Regions from separate parts of the Homo sapiens genome. Here region 2 is linked to region 1. The links come from fine-mapping of genetic effects on gene expression. A gene starts in region 1. The other region holds a variant in brackets. All regions are shown on one strand. Distances are from middle to middle.

Evidence for each region. PIP is the estimated chance that this variant, and not a neighbour inherited with it, causes the effect.
Region 2: its variant is fine-mapped to the expression of WASHC3 in rectum (CEDAR, PIP 0.95).

What each region holds. Positions count from the first base shown.
Region 1 is chr12:102,060,792-102,063,703 of GRCh38, reverse strand. WASHC3 (WASH complex subunit 3) reads left to right here and starts at 1,713. Exons shown (of 7, transcript NM_016053.4): 1 at 1,713-1,792; 2 at 2,358-2,456. The coding sequence starts at 1,742. RefSeq lists enhancers at 1,795-1,994, 2,005-2,054.
Region 2 is chr12:101,563,482-101,566,393 of GRCh38, reverse strand. No RefSeq gene overlaps it. Among named protein-coding and RNA genes, the nearest start is that of MYBPC1, 30 kb to the left of the region's middle. RefSeq lists an enhancer at 1-43. The variant T/AT (reference allele first, on the strand shown) is at 1,601.

The DNA.
Region 1 (2,912 bases):
GGCAACGTGCAACTTTAAGAAACACCACCCACACCCAAATAATTGCTACAGATGGCCTATGAATCACATTAGATAAACATGGACTATAGTATCAAATCTGGCATAAAAGGCCCTTAAACGAAAATTTTCTGGCTACGTCTCCTGAGGCAGAATAGGGTCTGGAGGCAGGGAACCTAACGCCGATTCACGCTGACTTCCTAGAACTAAATCAAAAGGTAAACCCCAAATTTCCACACCTAAGTAACAAAAGGACCAGCGGCTACTCCCTTTGCAAATCCCCACCTTTTCTGACAGGCAGATGGAAATTGAAAGTACCTCAACCAATCAGACTGATTGCGGGCCAAATCTTCCTTTGCATAGAAGTGCAACTAAGTAACATCACTTTAGCCAATGATTGGTTGCTTTCCACAACCAATCAGATGTTTGTATAGGAGTATGACCTTTGTCATTTTACTTCAGCCTCTGATTGGTTGCTTTCCATAACCAATCAGACTGATTGTGGGCCACCACTTCATTTGCATGAGGAGAACACCAGTGTCCAATGGGAAATCTCTAGTGGGTATTTGGACCTAAGAAGATTCTGTATCCAGTACACTGTGGAGCGTACTTTGGTTTTCAATGAATCTTTGCTTTTGTTGGTTCATTCTCTCCTTGATTTGTGCGTTTTGTCCAATTCTTTGTTCAAAAGAACCTGGACACCCTCCACCAGTAACACTCTTACCTCATTTCCTACCATTCTCCATTTATGGGATTATTTGCTTCAACCAAACCAACAGGCCAGGTGCCAGTGGCTCACACCTATAATCCCAGCACTTAGGGAGGCCAAGGCATGAGGATCATTTGAGCCAAAGGGTTTGAGACTAAGGTGAGCTATGATCCTCACTGCACGCCAGACTGGGTAACAAAGCGAGACCCCCCATCTTTAAAACAAAACTGCCCACTGCAGTCTTGGTCTTCATCTTTTTGATGCTCCCTGTAAGTGGCAGTCACTTCCGTAGGTTTGTGCCTCACATCTAGTAGTTGACATTTTATTTCATGTTTTAAAAACCTTTGGAAGACCAGGCGCGTTGGCTCACGCCTGTAATCCCAGCACTCTGTGAGGCTGAGGCAGGAGAATCGTGTGAGGCTGAGGCAGGAGAATCGCTTGAGGCCAGGAGTTCGAGACCAGCCTGGGGAAATAGCGAGAACTTGTGTGTATACACACACACACGCTTTGGAAGTAGGTCTTATTTCTCATTCTTCAGGGCATAAACCTCTCCCGTGCAGCAATCAAACTCAATCTTTGTTTTCCCAGTAAAAGCCTAGCAGAGTATATGGCACTTAGGATTAACAACAACAAAAAAAAAATTGTTGCTCAAGGAATGACGGAGTTATTATATAACAGACAGGACTAAGTAGGGATAACCTCAAAAGGACGCAACTTCTGGCTTTGTTTTTTTGTTTTGTTTTGTTGCCTCCTTTCTAAGATTTCAGTGCTCTAACTGCATCCTTGCACCACCGCGCGCCACCCCGAAATTGACGTCACAATCTGGACTAAAACTACCAATCCCAGAATGCCGAGCGAGGAGGCGGGCTCTCCGGAAGCCGCCGAGTGATTAGTGAGCGGAGAAGCTTTCTTCCGGCGGGAAGGGCCCCGGAGGCGGGCACTTGGGGGGAAAGTTGAGACGTGATTACCGGGTTGGGCGGGCCCCATCTGGGAGGGGTTTGTGGGTGAACTCGGGGTCCACCGCCCGCTGAGGAGATGGATGAGGACGGGCTTCCTCTCATGGGGTCAGGCATAGACCTGACCAAGGTTTGTAAAAGACGGTGCTAGACTCCCGACGAGCCGGGAGGAGGATGGGGAAGACGCAGCTTTCCGGGGAGACACCCACCTTCCGAGTCCCCACCCTGTCACGGCCTCGGGCCCTTGTGACAGGCCTGTGGGGCCTCAGGAGGGAGAGCCCCACAGTCCACCTTGAAATGGGGTCCCTCCTGAGCTGATTAAGGAGACGGTGTGCATCTCCCAACTGTCGCTTCCCATCTCGCTTGTCTCTCTGCCGCCGGCGACACACGCCGGTTGCGATAGCTAGCCCTACCTCTTATTCAGCCCCCAAGATTTTGTGTGTGTTTATGTGTGGTGCTTTTTGCCTGCCAAAATTCGTACCAGTGAGTCTAGAGCCTGTTCTCAAACTTTTGTGCACCTCTGTCATCTTCGGACACCCCACCCACAGCTTAGGAAACAAGTTAATGACTATTCCCAGTCCTTCAAGAAATTCATATCACACAGCAAAGTGCCTCGTGATTATGTCCAAATATGAAAAGATTTGCACTGTGTACGTTCCTCCTGTATGAACCATGTTTGTTTTTACGTAACACAGGTGCCAGCTATTCAACAGAAAAGAACGGTGGCTTTTCTAAACCAATTTGTGGTGCACACTGTACAGTTCCTCAACCGCTTTTCTACAGTTTGTGAGGAGGTAGGTCCGGTGATACTGGTTTATAGAGTCGCCTGGAAATCACCTTTCACTGCTGAGACTGACAAATGGAGTAAAACAAGAATTACAGTCTTTATTCATGTACCGTGACCTCTCATCACCCAATTGTGTTAACACATCTTAGGTTCTCTTTTACTCTGTTAAAATCAATCCTGCACCCCTCCTCTACTGAGTTAGTGTTCTAGAGGTCCCTGTGAGATAGGTCAGTCAGGCTTATTGCGATTAAAGGGAACAATAGGAAATCTAATTTTTTTTTTTTTTTTTTTTTTTTTTGTGAGACAGGGTCTCACTCTGTCACCCAAGCTACAGTGCAGTGGCGCGATCTCGGCTCACTGCAACCTCCACCTCCCGGGTTCAAGCGATTCTCCTGCCTCAGCCTCCTGAGTAGCTGGGATTACAGGCATGCGCCACCATGCCTGGCTAATTTTTTATATTTAG
Region 2 (2,912 bases), 500 kb after region 1:
GAAAAAGCCACGTAAAAGGAAAGAAAGCTTTCCTTTCCTCTCTGGCCTGTCAAAGGGCATTCTCCCCGCACCCAGACTCCTAAAGAGGAAGGATTCTTGCTTATGGAAGGAAAGCTAGGTGAGCCTAAAGAAAAAGTTGGGGATGGAGGTAGTAGGAGTTAGAGTGAAAGGAAAACATTCTGGGAATGGATGTTAGACGTTTGGAGATGCTGGAGAAAGGTTTGCAACTGCAGAGTGCAAAGGAGGTAGATGAGACAGGAGAGAGGATTTTAATAAGTGCTGCAGTGAAATATGCATTTGGGTTTTTTTTTTTGAAATTTCTTTGAGAGATGCAAGCAAAAGTGGAAGACTTTTATAATTTTTTTTCTGTTGACTTTTGCTTCTTGTTTTTTTGTTTTGTTTTGTGTTTGAGACAGAGTCTCACTCTGTCACCCAGGCTGGTGTGTAGTGGTGCAATCTCAGCTCCCTGTAGCCTCCGCCTCCCAGGTTCAAGCGATTCTTGCCCCAGCCTACCAAGCAGCTGGGACTGCAGGTGTGCACCACCACACCCGGCTACTTTTTGTATTTTCAGTAGGCATGCGGTTTCGCCATGTTGGCCAGGCTAGTCTCAAACTCCTGGCCTCAAATGATCTGTCCGCCTCAGCCTCCCAAAGTGCTGGAATTACAGGCGTGAGCCACCGCGCCCGGCCAACTTTAGCTTCTTTAAATGCAACTCTGTGCAGAGATGGGTATGTACGGAACTTCCCCCTTCTAGATTTATTATTGTTACATCTTTGTCCACACTTCACATCCCTAGGCAAAGATCAAGGAGAAGACTGTTTCTGGAAGAGGCAGAGGGAACAGACAACGCGAAGTCCCTAAATGGGAACAAGTTTGAGTTATTGGAGGAAGTCGGTGTGAGTGGAGTTTAGGGGAAGGCAGGGAGTTACAAAATGAGGTTGGAGTGATGGGCAGAGGTTAGATCCTGCAGCACTCTGAAGTTCAGGAAAGATTTCAGAGTCTATTCTAAGTGTAGGGGAAAATAAATGACTTAAAACCTTCCATTGGAAGGTTTTAAGAAGAGGAGTAGTGTTATGAACCAAATGTGTATGTCTCCCCAAAATTCATATGTTGAAATCCTAACCTCCAATGTGATGGTGTTAGGAGGTGGGTCTTTCAGGGGTGATTAGGTCATGAGGGTAGAGCCTCATGAATGGGATTAGTGCCCTTATGACAAGAGACAGGAGAGCTTGCCGTCCTTCCGCACTCCAGCATGTGAAGATTCAAGAAGATGGCCATCTGTAAAACCAGGAAGTGGATCCTCACCAAATACTGGATTGGCCAAGCACCTTGATCTTGAACTTCTCAGCCTTCAGAACTGTGAGAAATAAATTTATGTTGTTTGTAAGCCACCAGTTTATGGAAATTTGTCATAACAGCACAAACTGAGACAAATGGAATGATTTATTTTATTTTTTAAGAGTTTCTGGGCCAGGTGCAGTAGTTCAGGTCTGTAATTCCAGCACTTTGGGAGGCCAAGGTAGGAACACTGCTTGAGCTCAAGAGTTTGAGACCAGCCTGGGCAACATGGTGAAACCCCGTCTCTACAAAAAAAAAAAAA[T/AT]ACAAAAACTAGCCAGCCGTGGTGGCACACACCTGTGGCCCCAGCTACTGGGGAGGCTGAGGTGGAAGTGTTGCTTGAGCCTGGGAGGTTGAGGCTGCAGTGAGCCATGATTATGCCACTGCACTCCAGCCTAGGCAAGAGCAAGACTTTTAAAAAAATAAGTAAATAAATAAGACTTGGTTTGGGCACGGTAGCTCACGCCTGTAATACCAGCACTTTGGGAGGCCGAGGTGGGCAGATCACCTGAGGCCCGGAGTTCAAGACCAGCCTCACCAACATGGAGTAACCCCATCTCTACTAAAAATACAAAAATTAGCCGGACGTGGTGGTGCATGCCTGTAATCCCAGCTAACAAACATGCCTATAACAAACATCCCAGATAACATGCCTGTAATCCTAACTAACAAAGAGGCTGAGGTGGGAGAATCACTTGAACCCAGGAGGTGAAGGTTGCGGTGAGCCAAGATCGCACCATTGCACTCCAACCTGGGCATCAAGAGCAAAACTCCGTCTCAAAAAAAAAAAAAAAAAAAGACTTTCTGGTTGCTGTTGCTGTGATGAGATTGGATTTATGGGGCAGGTGGCAGCAGAATCAGGGAGATCAGCTAACAGGTTTTTACATCTGTCTAGCTGGCTTGGATGATACTGGTGGCAAGGGGATGGACAGATGTGTAATATTTGGGATATGCTTTGGAGATTAGAGTTTACAGGGTTTGCTGATGAATTAATGTAGGGAGGTGGGGGAAAAAGAAGAAATCAAGGACCTCATAAATTTTTAGCATGAGTCTCTGGATGTGTGATATTGCCATTTATTGAGATGGGGGAGACAGAAGAGGGAGCAGATTTGGGGAAAAAAAGTAAAAAGTTCTGTTTTGGACATGCTGTTTGGGATGCCTGGTACAGACATCCACGTGGAGAGATTAAGTAGGCAGTTGACTGTTTGAATCTAGAGTTCATTCAGGGAAGAGTTCAGGGCTGGAGGTATTGATTTGAGAGTCATTGGCATATCAATTGAACCACAGGTCCAGATGAGATGTCCTAAAATTCTGCTGCTACAGAAGACAGCGGGCCCAGGAACAAACTCTGAGACTCCAAATTTACAGGCAGACCAGAGTTAGTAAAGGGGACTGAGGAGTAGAGGCTTGAGAGCTAAAAAGAAAACAAGTAGAGTATGATAGCAGGGAAGCTGAAAAGAAGAAAAGTTTTAAAAGAAAGAAAGCCAAAGGTACCAAATGCTGTTGAGGGATGAAAATAACACTAGAGAAATGACTGCTGAATTTGGCATGATGGAAGTCACCAGTGACTTTGGTGA